Regions from separate parts of the Homo sapiens genome. Here region 2 is linked to region 1. The links come from fine-mapping of genetic effects on plasma protein levels. Region 1 holds a variant in brackets. A gene starts in the other region. All regions are shown on their reverse strands.

The links. PIP is the posterior inclusion probability: the model's chance that the variant is causal. The UK Biobank Pharma Proteomics Project read protein levels with antibody pairs (Olink). The fine-mapping took linkage between variants from a reference panel, not from the people measured, so its PIPs are less certain.
Region 2: it holds the start of LECT2, and the variant in region 1 is fine-mapped to the plasma level of the LECT2 protein (UK Biobank, PIP 0.99).

The regions. Positions count from the first base shown.
Region 1 is chr6:160,699,855-160,709,525 of GRCh38, reverse strand. It overlaps PLG (plasminogen), which reads right to left and starts at 7,282. Exons shown (of 19, transcript NM_000301.5): 1 at 7,173-7,282; 2 at 2,984-3,119; 3 at 1,720-1,826. The coding sequence starts at 7,221. The variant A/G (reference allele first, on the strand shown) is at 5,104.
Region 2 is chr5:135,949,561-135,959,231 of GRCh38, reverse strand. It overlaps LECT2 (leukocyte cell derived chemotaxin 2), which reads left to right and starts at 4,249. Exons shown (of 4, transcript NM_002302.3): 1 at 4,249-4,444; 2 at 6,265-6,361; 3 at 7,864-8,009. The coding sequence starts at 4,399.

The sequences.
Region 1 (9,671 bases):
GTTTAGCAAGCCAAGCAAACAGCAGCTGGGGGTTACTTAAATAATGCTGGGCCCTAGCACATTTGGGAAGTCTTTGGGTCTTATTTTAAGGGCACTAGGAAGGGCTTTAAACAGGGAAGTTACATTTCTTAGAGATCATGTGTACAGCTACAAGTAGCCCCAACCAGTGGTGATAGGGTCTTGGACTTGGTGAAGGCAGTGTGGCTGGTGGCAAGTGGCAGAAGTAAATGTGATCTAACACTGACTGTTCCTGGCAAAACCCTGGCAGGTAAGTTAGTAGCAGGTCAATATCCCACAGCAAAGAAACAAGGACCAAAAAATGACTGACTTTTGACTTTTCACTTCTTTTTTTTTTGTATGTACCCATCAGAGTTTATATAACCTTTTGCTCCCTTCTGTCACTTTGAAAACAAGCAAACTAAGCCTTCAAACTTCAGACTTCAAACTCAACCTACAGTCATTCCCATGTTCCTTCTGGTTAACAATTTACAAATGACATATTTAAATGTTAGCATTTTGTAGAGAGAATCAGGAGAATCAGGGTTTTTTTTTTTTAAAATCTGGTACAATTAGGTGATCCTATTTAGTTTACCGTTTGCTTGCTACTTGTAAGAACTAATAACTTCACCAGATAAAGTTTAGATTTAATCTGCACTTTAATCTCAAGAATTCGAGATAAATAGTGGTAAGGAAGGAAGTACAATGCGTACAGCTAATGAAACCCAGGAAGATGAGTCAATGCATAGAAATAATTCCAACCCAAATAAATACTATTTAAAATGCTACTTAGAGTTTTGCCGTAATACTAGACACAATATGGCAAATCATCCTCAAGAATACAAGAACTAAGGTGTTTCCAGTCCTCTTTAACACCTGGGATGCAGAATGTTTGGAGAGCTAAATTGTTACTATTAACAGTCTTAATACCTGGCTACCAACACAGTAGAGGAAACAGTTTTTAAAGTGTCATGCATCCCTTCAAATATTTATACTTGATGGGATATGCTTAATGGGAGCATACTTGATGGGATATACTTGATGGGAAATGCTTAATGAAACATTTGCACATCTAAAAAGGCATGCAATTTCTATTGAAATCCTGTCTGCCTCTTATTCTAAGCAGTGGGACTATTGACCCACATTTTAAAATAAACTATAGAAAAGGAACTGTAACTTTTACACATTTTTAAAAGACAACATTTCAGAAATCTGAGAAAAATATAGACCATGTCCCCCAAAATGTGAAAAATTTAAGAGTAAAAATAAGATTTGTGTCCCAATCTAAATGTTTCTGAGGATTAAAACACCTCAGTATTTCTGTTTTACAAGGCTTCATCCAGATGTTAGGGCCCAAGGACCATGGTCACCCTGCAGAATAAGAAGCCAAGACCAAAAGGAATGCTTAGACTTCCCATCTCCTTGTTAAATATAAAATAATATTTTAAAAATCTTATTTTCAGGGTCATAGAGGTAGAAGTGATTTTGTAAATCTAATCCTTTCATCTTTTGAACAAAAAAAATTAAATCTAAGAGGTGAAGTAATACACTCAAGCTGACATGGTTAGTTAGTAATCAAATCCTGTCCTAACTCAGAATTCAGTTTTATAACACGATAGTGCCTTCCTCCTCTGGTCTTATAAATTAAAGATAGAATAGAGAAAGAGGAAGAGTGGGAGGATGGGGAGGACAGTAGGAGGAGGAGGAAGAAAATGTACTCACCTTTCTTTTCAAATAAAACTACATCTCTCATCCTAATGATTATGGAGGACTTCCTGTTTTCAGCCATTATCACACATTGTTGCTCTTTACTGTGATATTGGAATGCCCTGCAGAACGAAGCAGGAAATCCAATAAGTATTTTTCTTTATTTAAAGAAAACAAATGTTTATTAATAAGTGAGACATGCTAAAGATCATTGAATATCTTGAGGGACCAGAGAGCTCAGAATTGCTGCCTCTTTCAGTTATTTGGGCATGGCATCGATGAAGTACTGAACAAAATACACCAACGTGGCAGCAAATCTTATCTGCCCTTACCTTCCCTCCCTCATAATTTTCCCTTTCTTCCTGTTTCAACTGCTTTACTTCTTCTTCACTCATCTTCTTAATTTTTGTTTTTGGGTTGGAAAGAAGCAACTCTGGTTGCTTTGAACCCATTCGCCAAGATAGTCCGTCTCCATGACCTCCCAACTCTGATCAGTTCCCCTGAACCTCTGCTCCACATTCCACCCCACCCTGGCCCCTGACCCCTCCCATCTCCATCCCGTGGTCCTGCTATGGGTGCTCAGTCTGGATTCCATAGCTACCTTCCCAAGCCCGTCACCTACACAAAGTCTCTGCTTTAGTCAACTTCATCTCTTAATGGTCCCCCTCAGAAGGTGCAGGGCCGCATCTTCCCCTGCCTTCCTGGTGCTTGTCAAGAGCTCTCTCAACTCCAAACCCAGCTCAGTTCCCACCTCCTCCCTGAGCCTTCTCTAGCTGCCTCAACCTTAGGCACTGTTCTTTCTTCTGGATCTGGGTAGAGCATGCATTGATTATGCCTGTACCTCACTTGGGCTGTCTTTTTTTTTTTTTTAACATTATATCCAGTTTCTTTGACTACACCTTAAATACTAAAGGGCAGGCACTGGATCTTGTAGCTATAAGTCATTGCTCAGATCTATCTAGGACACTTTCATTCACCTGATCCTCAACAAACATTTACTGATGATGATGTTGAAAACTGGAGCTCAGAACAATAACTGCTAATGTTTGTGTCCGGTGTAAAAACAAATAACTTCCTTTGAGGGTATTTTTCTAACAAAGACTCCAATAAACCTTAACAAGAAGCTGTTAGTATGGCTTCACATACTGTGAGCAAATATAGTTCCAAACTCTGGCTCCATAAATTTCTCTTTCCTCTTAAATCATTAATAAATTTGTGAGTAAATTACTTGCCATCTGAATTACAGATTCCTGCGTAGGTGCAACGACAATGGAAATACCTGCAGGTGAATTCTTCGTCCTCCTCACATTTTGCTGCACATTCTTCTATACTTCCTGCTCCCAGCTGCTTCTTAGTGACACTGAACAGTGAAGCCCCCTGGGTATTCACATAGTCATCCAGAGGCTCTCCTTGACCTAGAGGTGGGAGATCCAAGTGGAATAAATGGTCAGTAAATCAATGTCAATGTCTAATTGTCATGACTTCCTTTTAATCTATTTGGTTAGCATTAACCAAATAAAACTTTCTGTTTACTGGAAGTAGAATGGGTAGCTATGAATCAAAATGTTTAGTTAAGAACACACAGTCGGGCATTTGGACATAAATAAAGATGGCAACTAAAGACACTGGGGACTACCAGAGAAGGGAGAGAGGGAGCAAGGCAAGGGCTGAAAAACTACCTATTTAGTAGGTATTTAGCTCACTACCTGGGTGATGGGATCATTTGTACCCCAAAGCTCAGTGTCACGCAATTTAGTTATGTAACACACCTGCACATGTACCCCTGACTCTAAAAGTTGAAATTATAAAACAAAGAAAAACAGTTTCATTAGCAGATTGCAAGATAGTAAAAGATTAACTGGATTGACAAACAGGTTAGAACTATGGAACCACTACTATGTTACCATATTAGTGGATATAAATCCTTAAACAAGAACAAATTTTATGTTTGCTATTGATTGTGCCATGTCATGAGAGAAGAGTAAGGCACCATCAGTGGCAGTTGTGTTACCAAGATTGATGTTGATTTGTTCATCCCTGGGTAGAAATGGAACTTGGAGGCCATTGTTTGATTTCCTACAATATGCGCTTTGGTTCTGGCACTGTCACTTGAACCGGTGGGAAGCATCCTCTGAATGGTCCCTCCTTGAGAAACATAAATTTTGGTGCATAGATGATGGTGGAAATAAACAAGAACTGAACTAAATTATGTTGCCACCTTGGACAAAAATTGGGCAAAACACTGGAGGGTAAGAAGCTCCCCAACAAAGAAGGCCATTTTTGTACTGGGCTTATGACAGTCACACAACACTACTAATTGGGGAGAAGTCAGTTTTTCCAAGGTGTTGACAGGTATCTGGATTTCGGAGGAAATTGTAAAAAAGCAGGACCTGGGACAAATACTGGTCTTGGTTTTTCTTTGAGATCAAATCTGAGACAACGAATCTGTCCGAAAGCTGCTTTCTGCCTGGTCGTGGCAGAGGGTGGCCAAGGGGGCCTCAGCTGTGCTCCCACCACAAGGCTACAGGGTGTCCCCTTGTCCTGAGGCTCTTCCAGACATCTGGCTGAGCTTTGGTAGCTCTATTCCAAGCCTGGAGATGCCAGCTCCGTCCTTGGCACAGAATGCTAGTGATTTGCACAAGGGTGAGAGGCCAAAAGAGGCTAATAAAATGAAGACAGGCAAGCTCCATGGAATTAGACAACAGGACAACCTTGACCACTTTGAGGGGCGTGGTGGGGGCCGCAGGCAGAGGGGGTGGGTTACAGAGTGACTAGGAGAGCAGTGGAGGCTGCAGCAGGAGACAAGCCTGGCTCTGAAGACAGCGAGCCCTCCAGGGAACATGCGGTCAGGGGAGGTTCTGAAAGATGACACACTGCAGAGCGCATTGGTTTGTATGCTGATGACAAGTATCCAGTAGGAAAGCAAATGAACAGATTTTCATTCTCAGAAAGGCCTGTCCTGACCTCCTGAGGGTACACAGAGCACAAGGGGCAGGACAGGGAGGTGGATGCATGCTCATCGATTCATGCAAAGTCCTCGGCCAAAGTCCCCCTGCTCCCCACCTCTGGGACTTTGTCCTTCCTCAATTTAAGACATTCCGGGCTGGAAAAATGGATTATTGAGCAGGAGTTGGCTGATGCATTCTAAAGCTAATCCACTAAAAAGCACTTGAGAGATATATCAAAAGATCACAAAGAAATAGATGCTTTAGGCCCATATCCATGTCTTTACCCCGCACTTTCTGCCAACTTGAACTCTCATTTTCAAGAAGAGTTGTGTTTTGGTTAATTCTATATAGCTCACAGTGTGACTTCAAAACACACAATAAATCCACAAAGTGTGTCCTACAGTGAGTTCAGTTAAACTTTCTGAAGAGTTTTTTTGAAGTATAGCAGAGC[A/G]GGCTACAACTGATATTCAAAAAAAGAAAACTTCCATTTATTTCCCCCTTCAATTAAGTTCTCTGTGTTATGTTACTATGCTTCATAGCGCATCGCTGCTGAGATCCCCTCCCCAGCTCATGTCCCTAGGAAATATCCCAAAACAGAATCAAACTTTTCTCTTTTCAGTTTGAAATAATTTTCCCCCATTTTTTCTTCTCTTATTCACCTCTAGGACTCATATGGCAATAGGATTTGATAGGGCTTATTTGCTGGCAAGGAAACATCAAACAAATCTTTTAGTGGAAAAATACATTTATATTATAGGCAAAATGCAGATGTATATTGCTACTGATGCAAATGTATTTTATTAATGGTGTGAGAATTTCTTCCTCACTGTGGTGTGTGAATGTGTATGCATATTTGCATGTGTAAAAGACTTAATTTGTGAAATGGAAGATGTTTCTCCACTTCCCACTAAGCATGGCTGTAAAAGAAACTTTTCCCTCTCCCCGGGCATTGCAGCACACTGGAAAGATGATACATCCACAGAAAACCTGGCTTTCCAAAAGAGCTTATGAGAGAATGTGCCCACCAGGTGGGTTAAAACATATGTTAATCCTGTGGCAGAGAAGTTTGATCTAGCCTTTGGGTGTAGCCCACTGAATAAGTTCATAGTGATCTATGTCCTAGTTTCCATGCATTGAAATATAATATTCATACCCCCCAACATACACCAATTTCTTACAAAAATTTCTTTAATTTTCTCCTGCTCTGTATTTTCTTTGATAGCTCCTTGAATGGCTTCCACTAAATTCAAATGTATTTGACTCTAAAGTGCAACTTGTAAAATTTTATCTGGTAATTTATAGATTGAATTTCAAGCGTACATTATTTACATGAAGAACTACTAGCAAATCGTATGATTCCGTTTGTATGAAATGTTCAAAATGGCAAAGATATAAATACAGAAAGTAGATTAGTGGTTGCCAGAAGCTGCAGATTGGGGGTAACAGCTAAGGAGAGTGGAGTGCGTTTTTGGGGGTATGAATAGTTTTAAAATTTATTCTGATGGTGGCTGCACAACTCTCAATATCTTGAAATCCATTGGATTGTATGCCTAAATGGGTGAATTCTATATGTTAATTATATCTCAATAAAGCTTTTTTTTTTTTAAAGAAAAAGAAGTACTAGGACATGTTTAGAATATTCTTTCAAAGGCTTAAACAAAGCTGAAAAGTGAGAAGAGCCCTAGATTCCTTCTGGGAAACCTGGCTTAAATCCAGTTTTCTTTATTTCCCAGATCTGAGAATTTGGTCACTGAGCAAATAACATGATATTCCTAAGTCTGATTTCTTTGTTTATAAAATGAGGATGAATATGCTACCCTACCTATACCACGAGCTAAATAAGCTAGTATTTGTAAAGGATACACACTCACACTCACATTCACACACAGGTATGTATGTATGTGTAAAAATGTAGGGACCTAACCCAAGCAACTGAGTATTTGTTGATCACTATCTGCACACAGCATCTGGCAAATGGATGCGTGTGATTTTTCCGGGGATAAGAGGCAAACGTATACTGATGGAAAGCCTTCCTCAGGCCATAACAAAGGGAGAAATGCTGAGTCCCCGACCCTGCCGCCACCATGAACTGGTGAGAGAACGGAATATATTCAAAGAGATATTTCACTGTTTTAACTTGCAAGTGAGGGGAGCATGACACCGTAACAGAGATGATATAAATTAGTCAAACTGAGAACCAGGCAAAGAGCTTAGCCGTCCTTTGCATAATTAGCTACATTGGCTCTTTTTCAATTAGACTGGCCATTATGTGGGTGCACTCATTTAGATTTGAAAAATCACCCATTATTTTCTCTGCCCATTCATTCCAGCACCCTGACAATCTTCACAGGAAACTTAAACTTATTTCTTGAAGAATTCCTCAATCTTATACAAGATTTTCAACTGGAAGTTTCATGAATCAAAAATTAAATGAATTGCACATAAAGCCATGGCATATGTATTTTTACTACATTGTGGGAGAAAAAATAATTCTTATAATTTAAAAAAACTATGTCTTACCTGATTTCAGAAATAAAAGAAGTAGAAGAACCACTTCCTTATGTTCCATTTTGGGACTGGCCAGCAGTGCCCAGAAAGTGGGTCCCAATCCCAGGATGTTGTTGACTTACATGAGAGTAAACGCATCCACAAACCAGATAGTCAAATTAAGTTAATGATTCTCTCAGAGACCCATGCCACTGGCTCAGCAGGGTTCAAACATTACCTTGAATAAAGAGTCCTTACAACATGTTTGAGGGTGGAATCTGCAATAGATGCTGGGAAGTGGTGAAAGCAATCTCCCCCCTCGGCTGCTCCACGCTGCCGTCATGTCTCCTTATTCCTTCCCTCACCCTTGTACTTTATCTCTCGCAATTAGTCTTATTTCCTCCCCTCTTCTCTTATTCCCTTTCTTTTGGAGAAAATGAAATCATAAAAGTATCTCACATTTGCTGGAACCTTCCATGACGAGACCCTCTGCCAAGCGCTGCACGTCCATAGCCTCCCTCAAGCTTCCCAACAGGCAGGGCTGTTCTCATTCCTGCTGTACGAGGGATGGGGCTGAGGCCTTCCCCAAGGTTGTGTCTCTACCCAGGGGTGCAGCTGATAGACAAAACCCCTTCAGGTCTTAGATGACAAACTTAAGTTAGGTGTAAACGTTAATATCTCTACATCCTACACCAAATGACATAGAAATTACGACATAAGTGAAAGTATCTTATTATCTTCAAAATTTATTTATTCCCAGTGAACTCACATGTTTTCTGTAATTATAAATTATGTTATAAGACATCAATCTTTCCCCCAAATGAACGTATGCCATATTATTATATTCTCATTCTCATGAAATAAAGCAAGACTGGTAGCATTAAGTGGAAAGCGTCTATCTCAATTTTAAATGTTGAATCTGTACTTTTCCCTGGCTTAAGTCTAGAGCAACCAGGTAGTATATATGCTGTAAAACTTCTATTTTAGTGTTCAAAGATATTTAGGAATAAATCAATTGACCTCTCTATTTTAGATGTGAAATAAGGACCAGAAAGCATTGTTCCTCTTTCCAGGCAGTGAAATTCCTGCCTATTCATTAACTGGCAAAAGAGTAGAGGTGGGAGCCCAATGGTCTTGGGTGGAATGTCCTGCGGAATTCCCTGGGATTGAGGAACCATGCAGAACCCTCAAGAAGAAGCCACACTGGGCAACAAGAGGGTGGCCCCATGTGAGGGACAGGGGGACCGAATCGCTTTTCCTGATTTCCTATTTTAGCCTCACTCTCTTCTCTCCTCAAATTCTTACCACTCCCTTTATCCTCTCTGACTCACCTCATGGCCCAGTTCATTAAAGGGGACAGAAGGTGGAGGCAGATTGAGAAACCAGCAGTGGGCAGACATTTTATTTTTAATGTGAAATGTCTCTTAGGGGGCTCATGTTGATGTGCTTGAGAAAGTACTCTGGGAAAAAAAAATACTCTACTAATATATAATGCTTCCAGCATGTATTTATTTCCACTTAAAATATTATTGTAGCAGTTCCTCTTGGATAAGGCACCTTGGGAATGATGTTATCAGAAATTCTACATCCACATAATTTTCTTTTCCTGTTGTTTTGGTTTTGACTTGGGTGGTGTTGGTATAGCTTTTGCCCACCTTTCCCCTGGTAGTTGTTGGATGCATTAAATTCTACAAATGTGATTTTATAAATTAGTTGCCCTCCTAATGGCCTCCTGGCTGTACATTCTTCCCTACCTTCATAATCCATCAGCATCGTGAAAGCACAGAGGGACGTTGAGCAGAGCTCTGTGCTGGCGCCACCGCACTCTGTAGCCTGTAAGAGAGCAGCAAAGAGGAATGTGTTGCTCAGGTATAGACGGGGGTGGGTGCATAGAGACTTCCGCTGCGGCATGGCCCTTCATGTCCAGGGTAGGCATGAAGCAATGGACTATTCCAGGTTGTGCATAGGAAACCACACAGCACTCTTGGAGGGATTTTTGCTCTAAAGACAACTAATTCAAAATAAGGCGCTTTCTACCTGAAAGAACAGCATGAACTAAGAAAAGAGATATATAGAGAGATCTCTGTGTACTATGATCAGGTTGCACATATTCTGGGATTTATGTATTCTTATTAGTTCAATTCCTTATTTATTGACCACTTACTGTTTACAATATTGTATTAGATTCTTTTAGGATTACAGTTGACCCTTGATCAATTTCAGGGGTTGGCACACTGACCATACACAGTAGAAAATCCAGGTATAACTCTGACTCTCAAAAACTTAACTACTAACAGCCTGCTGTTGACCAGCAACAGTTAATAACATGTATTTTGTATGTTATATGTATGATATACTGTATTCTTACAATAAAGTAAGCTAGAGAAAAGGAAATGTTCGTAAGGAGAAAATACATCTGTGGTACTGTTATGTATTTTTCCATACAGTAAGTTTACACCACCTGTTTACAAGATGAATCATCTGTCTGAAATGGAAGCAACCCCAGCTACAGACCTCAGTCTCTGTTACATA
Region 2 (9,671 bases), not on the chromosome of region 1:
AGGATAGTATAGTAAACTTCTGCGTACTCATTACCCAGCTTCAGTAATTAGCAGTTCATAGCCAATTGTGTTTAATCTATATGCTACCTACTCTCCTAACTCCTGGATTATTTTGAAGCAAATCTGAAACATCCTATGATTTCATACCCATAAATGTTTCAGTATGTATTTCTAAAAGATAGGAACTTTTTACAAACACCTAATGTATTATGCTTAAAATTACACAGAATAATTTCTAATATCATCAAGTAGTGTTAAAATTGTCCCTATTCTCTGTTTCTCTCTGTCTATCATTTCCTCATTTGATTCAGACTCCAAGTAAAGTCCATACACGGCATTTTGTTGATAAATCTTGTAAATCTCTTCTAATCCACAGATTGCCCCTCTCTCTATTTTCCTTTCCTCAGAATTTATTTGTTGAAGAAACCAGGTTCTTTATCTGGTAGAACTTCCTACAGCCTGCATTTGTCTGACTGCATTCTTGTGGTACATTTAACATGCATCCCTGTGCTGCATAGTTCCTGTAAACTGAAAGTTAGAGCTAATGGCCTTATAAGACTTTAGCCTGATTTTTTGACAAGAATACTTTATAGGTTGTGTTGTGCATTTCCAACAGGAGGTATAAAATGTCTGATATACTCTCTCCTTCTCTCTCTTCTTAACAATACGATTGATTAGGTATCATCAGCCTGATCCATCCATTACAAAGTTTCTCATCAGCTTTTCAGCATTGATGACATTGCTCAGATCCTATCCCATTACGGGTTTCAAAAGAGTCTCCTACCATCTCTTCTGCAGTTTAGAGGACGGCACTGGCTTCAGAGGGGAAGATACATTGGAAACAGTTAATGCAGAAGGCAGGGAAAATAGGAGGAAAGCAGGCCACAGGTAGGAAAACAATAGCATTGCTGGAGCAAAGGTTTTGTGCATTTAAAAATGTGAGGGGTATTGCAAAATTGTACTCTAAAGAGGTTAAACCAACTTACACTTTTCAATAAATGTTTCTACATACCTTTGTCAATTTGATGGGTGAAAAACTACACCTCATTCTGGTTTACAATTGTTAATTTTAAGTGAAGTGGATCATATTTTCAAATACATATTGGTAATCTGTATTTTTTCTTTTAGGAAAGTCTGCTGCTATCTTTTGCCCATTTTTCTTTTTTTTTTCTTTTGAGACGGAGTCTTGCTCTTGTTGCCCAGGCTGGAATGCAATGGCACAATCTCGGCTCACTGCAAACTCCGCCTCCCAGGTTCAAGCGATTCTCCTGCCTCAGCCTCCCAAGAAGCTGAGATTACAGGTGTCTGTCACCACATCTGGCTAATTTTTGTATTTCTAGTAGAGATGGGGTTTCGCCATGTTGGCCAGGCTGGTCTCGAACTCCTGACCTCGTGATCCGCCTGCCTCGGCCTCCCAAAGTGCTGGGATTACAGGTGTGAGCCACCGCGCCTGGCCTTTGCCCATTTTTCTATCAATTTGTTTACACCTTTTATTTTTTTAAAGAATTCTTTATATATTAGGGAGATGAGTTCCTTATCTGTCATATTATATGGGTTATAGATATTTTTTTCAGATTATTATCTTTTGACTCTGATCAGGATACTGTTGGCTTTGTAGAAAGTTTTTTTTATTATTGTTATAACGCATTTATCAAATATTTCCTTCAGCACTTCTGGGTTTTTTAACATTCTTTGAAAAGTCCAACCCATACCAAGACCATTAAAAATCATTCATAATTTCTCCTAGTATTTCTATGGTTTCAGTTCATTTCTTTTCTTTCTTTCCTCCTCCTCCCTCTTTCTCTCCTTTTGCATACAAATGTTTGGTTCACTTTGATATGGATTGAACTTTTATTTATTTATTTATTTTGAGACAGGGTCTCACTATCTTACCCAGGGTGGAGTGCAGTGGCATGATCGTAGCTCACTGTAACTTCAAACTCCTGGATTCAAATATTCCTTCTGCCTCAGCCTCCCAAGTAGCTAGGACTGCGTACACACACACCATGCCTGACTAAGTTTTAAAAATGTTTTGTAGGAATGGGGTTTTGCTATGTTGCCTAGGCTCGTCTCGATCTCCTGGCCTCAAGTGATCCTCCCGCACAGGCCTCACAAAGTGCTAGGATTACATGCATGAGCCACCACGCCTAGACTGCACTTTTATTTCTTGCCAGTTGTTGTCTCAATACAGTTAATAGAATGACTTATATTTCCTCTAATCATTTAAAGTATGACTTCTATTGTATACTACATGCTGTATATATTTGTGCCTATTTCTGAATCATCTGTTTTGTTTCACTAACCTATTCTTTCAGTACATTGACTCAGATCCTTGATGTATTCAATGCGTTGGCATTCTATATTGTATACATTAGATGCCTCCTTGAAAGGTTGTGTGTGAAGCAAAAACAATTAGGTGCATAATCTCATTGGCATCGTTTAGTTATTGTTGTGTGACATACCACACCAAAACTCAGTGGCTTCCAATGACAGCCAGTTAAGCCCATACATTCATAGGGTATACTAAGCTGGATTTTGTAGGGGCAACTGTGCTCTGCATGGCATCCATTCCCTTCCCAGGGCAGCAGGATCATCTGCCTCACGGCGATGTAGAAACACAGGAAGGAGTGTGCAAAGACTAAGGCCCCAGAAGACCCAGGCTTTCCCGACCCACTGCCACTTCTGCCTCATCTTAGTGGTCAAAGCTACACAGCTAAACCCAAAATCAAGGGTGAGGAAAGTTCCCTTTGCCCCCATGAAACATGGCAAAGGTGTGGATGCAGAGAGGGTGAAGAACTGGGGCTACAATCCCAATCTCCCACAGCTACTGGCACATAATTTAAATGGGGAAGCTTCCATAGAAAATTCCAGGTGCTCATCTAATATTAAGCTAAAAAGGAGCTGCTAACATATATTTGAAACACACTGAAAATTTAATTCCCCAGAAAAGTACAGGGTAACATAACATCCATGTGTCTATCTCCAATAATTAACAAATTAATATTTTAACATATTTGCTTCTGATTTTTTTCTTTTTTTAGAAATAAAATATTTTAGAGTTTATGTACTCTGTATATCCTTCCACGGTTTTATTTCTCTCACTATCCAGAAGTAATTAGTACCTTAAAGGTAGTCTGTGCATATTTTTATTATACATACAGCATTCATTAAGATTAATATACTTGTTTTCAGATTTTACATATTATAAATAGTATGATACTATATATATAATTCTAAAAATAGCTTTTTAATTCAACAGTATATCTAGAGATCTAGCTGTGTTAATACATGTAGATTGTCTTCATTTAAATTGTTATATTTTACTCTGTTGTATGACTGTATTATTCTGTTCTTGCATTGCTATAAAGAAATACCTGAGATTGGGTAATTTATAAAGAAAAGAGGTACAGAAAGCATGGTAGCTTCTTGGGACGTCTCAGGAAACTGAAAATCATGGCGGAAGGCAAAGGGCAAGCAGGCATGTCTTACACGGCTGAAGCAGGAGGAAGTGAGAACAGGGGAGGTGCTACACACTTTTAAACAACCGGATCTCACCATAACTCACTCACTCACTATCAGGACAACAGCACTAAGGGGATGATGCCAACCCATTCATGAGCACTCTAGCCCCATAATTCAATCACCTCTCACCAGGCCCCACCTCCAACACTGGGGATTACAATTGAACATGAGATTTGGGTGGGGACACAGATCCAAACCATATCAATGACTATATTATAATTAATCTTTTTTCCTTTATTGATGGATGCTTTTAATGGTGTTAACTTACCATTATCATAAACAAGAAAACATTTAAAAATCACATATTTAAGGTGAATACATGCAATTTTATTAAAATATTAAAGTTATTTGCAAATATTACACAGGTGAAATATAATTAAACTGAGAATTCAAAAACACCTAAGGGATATATTAAGGAATATGTTATGAAGGGCTACACATTATTAATGACCAATTTTCTTCTGAAATATGTGCTATCAAGGAAATAAAAGAAAGATCTACCAGCAGGCAGCACTAAATATTCCATCATTCGCACGAACATTCTCCTACAAGCCACAGCCCAGAAGACTGTCGATATGCACCTAGCCTTATCATTTTCTGTTAATATTTAGTCAGTATTTCCAATATAATTGGCTTCTTCTTCAGATCAAAGGCTTTTACATAGGCCCTACCTGCAAATCAAATAGCTATCCATGGAATATTAGAACTTGACTTGCTCCATCCTCTTAAACTTTTTGTGTCTCACACTAAAGAAATGAGAGATGCAGAATTCTAAGGCTAAATAGCTAGGAAGTATTCATTCAAACTTGAATATTCTTCAAAGAGAGTGTGGGGGCAACTCTAATCAGAGGAAGAAACTAAAGGAAGTAAAACCAGATGTTTTCCACCAAAGCCCTCCTTTTGGCTGGTCTGATTTCTACCGGTAAGTCGAAAGTGCAATTTTAGAATATTGATTAACTTTTAAAAACTGATTTCAGGGGAAGACTAAAAAGATTAAAAAGTCATTAATAGCATGATCACAACAAAGACTTGTGTATTTGGCTATTAAAAATGAAATAGGAATGACACATGGTCCTGAGGATGTTTTAAGTAATTTAAATGGAATGTTCCGGTTCTTTAATGAGGGAAACATAATAGTGGGTTGAGAAGACATTACAAAGCCTTTCAGTCTGAGTCTGGGTCTGGGACTTAACTAGAACAAAACTAGATAATAAAAAGTTGATATAAATATTTGATTCTGATTTTGATCAAAATCAAATTCTGATACAGATACTAATACAGAGACTGGTATGGATTAAGACAAAGGGATGGCTCCCTTAATACTCACCGAAGGAGGAAAAAGTGAATAAATTACTACACTGTCTGATATTTGCCTCAATTCCCAAGGATAAATATTAGTTGCCAAAGTGATGGGATTATATCTTGATCAAGGTGTTGATTTGGAGCTTGGCTCCAAGGCATAAAACTTTTGAAACCCACCTTTTAAAAGTATTTTAAAGAAGAGGCTTAATGGCCATATTCTGTAGGTTCTCTTCACAGGATAGGTATTAATGAAGAGTAAAATGTCTTTAAATAAAATCAATAGTCAAATTACCAGGCTCTCGCTTTTGCTTGTTTGTTTCAAAGTGCAAGGTTGAGTGTGCTCACTGTATCTCTCTGTGAATGTTAACACTGGAAATCCAGGACATTTAATTCCATTGAACATTTATTAAGTGCTTACTATAGTAAAGAAACAAATTGTGCCTGAAACAAAGTTTGCACCAAGTCTGCTGAGAAAGCAGCCCCTCCTCCACGTTTCATAATTTTTCATATAATTGGTTCTACTCCTTCTCCTACCTTCACCCCTAATCTCAGTCTAGGCTAAATTGGTTTGACATTTCAGATTATTTTTAAGAATCTCCCTCTTCCATGTTGGCAACTATGAGAGATTTATCTAGTGTTAAACAAACTTGGCTAGTACAGAGTTCGTTTCTCCTTTAATTCAAACATTTGCTTGGATTTGATTAGTGGAACTAACCATTTCAAAATTACAATTTCTAAAATTATTTTCTGAGCCATGCTATTTTATTATTTTTGCTTAATCTAAAAATAATGATCCCCATGGCAGATAATGAGCAAAGAAAAATAGAAAAGCACAACTTATACCATTTACTAATGGATCTGAAGCAAAGTATAATGATGGAGGCCAATGCTTATAAAGAAACACATTCAGCTGGGCGCAGTGGCTCACGCCTGTAATCCCTGCACTTTGGGAGGCTGAGGCAGGCAGATCACGAGGTCAAGAGATCAAGACCGTCCTGACCAACATGGTGAAACTCCGTCTCTACTAAAAATACAAAAATTAGCTGGGTGTGGTGGTGCGCACCTGTAGTCCCAGCTACTCAGGCGGCTGGGGAAGGAGAATCACTTGAACCCAGGAGATGGAGGTTGAAGTCAGCTGAGATCACGCCACTGTGCTCCAGCTTGGCAACAGAGTGAGACTCCGATCCAAAAAAAAAAAAAATTGTATTCACTGATACTCTAACGTCACAAAGCAGAATTCTGTGGCCAGGGAAAAAGCCAATTTTACATCTGAATCAGGAAATAAAATTCTGGAAGGACGATCTTCCCATAAATACATAAAGTCCAGGGAAAACTACAGTGAAAACAGAATTGTCAGGATCAACTGTGTGACTGATAAGGCAAATGGGGATAGGAAATGTCTGAGGCCAGGAGCTCTGCTCTCACTTTTCTCCTTTTTAGCACTGGCAGGGCCATGGGCTAATATATGTGCTGGCAAGTCTTCCAATGAGATCCGGACGTGTGACCGCCATGGCTGTGGACAGTACTCTGCTCAAAGGTATGAAGTTGCACAACCACCCACCCAACCCTTTGGTCCCTAACCTCTTTTCTTAGTGTCCTTGCCCAACGTTGGTTGCCTCAAGGGCTCACAGTTCTGACAGCATGAAAAACCAGAGATGTAACCAGTTACATCACTGTCTTTGGAGCAGCTTCCAAGAACTCTGCTTCAAGTATGAGCTATAAATTGGGATCAGAATGTGGAAGAAGGAAAAGATCAGGGAGCAAACACAATGTTTTCCTTCTGAATGTCTTCACACATTCACTTATCTCAACTGTTTTTTTCCAAAGGGTTATTAAACACAACTATCCCATTTTATAGAAGAGAAACTTTAACTGAGGTACCAAAGGGTTAAGGGACCTGCCAAGCACAGTTGGAGATGGTGAAGCCTGGACCTGAATTCAGGCTTTTGGTTCCTCTTCCCACCAAACCACGCGGTTACTGGCTCAGGCTCTGGATGTTGAATATTAGAGGCTGGCCCTAAGCAGGAGAGAAAGCACCACTATCTCTTCCAGAAAATGAGGGTCACACTTGTGAATTTTCAGTTATACCCAACATCACCTTGGGGTGCCACTTTCTAATGAAATAGCCATGTGTCCAGTCATATCACTGATCTCCATCCTAACTAGAGGGGAACTCTCACATATACAGATACTACTTACAAAGCAACCTCAAATACTGAAACAGGACTAAGAGAAGGGAAATATGGGAAACGTCCCTTGAATTGCCAAAATTCAGACTCAGCTTATACTGCAAAGTTTATGCACTTGATTGATACAGTAAATTCTTGGCTCTTGAGCTTGCTCAGTGTTGCTTTGTACATAATTGCAGCAATCCTGGTGAACCTGATCGTTCAGGTGACAGCCTATTAGAAGGTAGGGGAGGCTGGTGAGAGCAGGCATAGTGACAGCAGCGGGAAGCAAGAGCTGAGGGGTTGCTAAGACGAACTCAAGGCACGTCACAATCTAGAATAGTTTGATTTGGGCTCCATGCACTTTAATAAACCCAGGAGGTATCACTCATTGTATTAAAATACCATATACAGTAAGTGACGTTTACAATCACTTTTCTAGATCACTGCAAGAAAAATAAGACTAGGGTAACATGTGATACTTTTATGATAGGTTCCCATAAAAAGACAGCTGTTTTCAAAGTGGGCTTGAAGATGTCAAGATCTAGGTATCTAGAAAATGCACTTACATGGACTGCCTCATTCCCCCAACATGCCATAAAATAATAGTAGCTAATATTTGCTTAAGGCTTATTATGTACCAAGTACCATTTTAAATGCTTTCATCTTTATGATATGGTTATTAGCACCTGCGGGGAGGGAGGTTAAAATTGGGCTAAACAGAGTGAGGCATCCTGGGACATCCCAACATGTTCTGGCAGCTTCAAGCTTTGGTACCTCGTCTGCAAACAGTGGGCTAACACCATGTTCCCAGGCAGTAAAGCTCCCCTAAGGCAGTTCCTCAGTCTGTTCGTTCTTATTTACATCCTAGAAGTCAGAGGCCTCACCAGGGTGTGGACATCTTGTGCTCTGCTGGATCTACTGTGTACGCACCATTCACTGGAATGATTGTGGGCCAGGAGAAACCTTATCAAAACAAGAATGCTATCAATAATGGTGTTCGAATATCTGGAAGAGGTAAGAGAGGTGGAGTCTACACCTGGGGTGCCTCCTGGAGATGTTGATGCTCATTTATTTAATGCAGGTTCCATACGTAGAGATTTTGTACTTCTTTCAAAATGATAAAACCTGGAACAGAAAGAATATAGAGTGTACCCAAACTAGCTGATGCATTTTTTAAAAAACTTTTATTTTAGGTTCAGGGGTACATGTGCACATTTGTTATATAGGTAAACCACATGTCACAGACATTTGGTGTACAGATTATTTTGTCACCCAGGTAATAAGCATAGTACCCGATAGATATTTTTTTCTGATCCTCTCCCAGCTGAGGCACTTTCAAGGACGTTTCACCATTTTCTCTGAAAACTTCTGCTTCATGCACACACTTCACGAAACCCCACAGCTGATTGGAGGCATTCCTTCCTGTGGCCCATGTGGTTTTGCTTAACAATCTATAAACAAAGCCACTTTCAGCAATGCTAACCATAATGGATAGATACTTGCATTTACTCAAATCCCACAAATCATAAATGCTGGCACTTCTGCAAGAGTTGAATGTGAAATATTTTTGAAAGCTTCTAAGTTTTAGGTAAAGCTAGATCTCCTGGTACTCCAGGTATTGGTTTTGTTGTTTGGTTACTCCATCAAGGTATAAATACACACATAAAAGTGCACAACACATCCATGTATAGCTCCGTGAATTTCAAAAAGTGAACACACCTGTGTAATCAGCACCCAAATCAAGAAAAAGAACATCACCCACATCCCAGAGATCCCTTGTGCTACCACTTAGTCATTATTCCCAGCAAGATAATCACTATCTCAAGTTCTAACACCATGTATTAGTTCTTCCTGTTTCTAAAAATGGTATAAATAGAATTAAACAGCATGCACTCTTTGGGTCTTCTTTCATTCCACATCGTGATTATGCAGTTTATGTTTTTGTATCCACGTTCTTTCTGATGCATGATATTCCATTATATGCGTATACTTTCATCTATTTATCTATTCTTCCTCAGATGGACTTTTGGGCAGTTTCCAGTTTAAGATGATTATAAAATTGCTGCTACGAACTTCCTTATACCTTTTAATGAACATATATATGCATTCCTATTGGGAGTGAGTCCAGAGGAGACCCTCCTCACCAAGCCTGTGAGAGGCATCTTTTGAGCGAACCCACATCCTTGAGGAGCTACATAGTGGTTGTCCTCTGTAGGCCAATGTCACAAGGGAAACTTCTGCCATTGAACTGTGTCCTCTGTAGTGGCACTTAACAGTTAATGCCAAGGTCAGTGAGAGCAGAAGCAGTAATCAGATTCGTCTAAATCTCAGAGATTTGTGACACTGGCTAGTAATCATGGTGACTCAGGAACTGAATAGATGAGCAGCCAACTAAAGCCTTATTGGACTTGTATGAATGGAAATGCTCCAGGTCTGATGAACAAAATGCTGACTTCAGTCATCACAATAATGGGTCCCAATTCCCAATAAATTCCCAGGCTTGAATTGGTTCACAGTCCCAGAGCCTCTTGAACAAAAGGGAGGCTCAGTCCTTTTGCGTAAGGGTCCTGCTACGCAGCCAAACATTTATACTGTAAACCTTACTTCTAGCTGTCCCCAAAGGGACCTGCAACGGTTTAGCAGGATGACAGCACATTAGGGAAGAAATAATTAGGC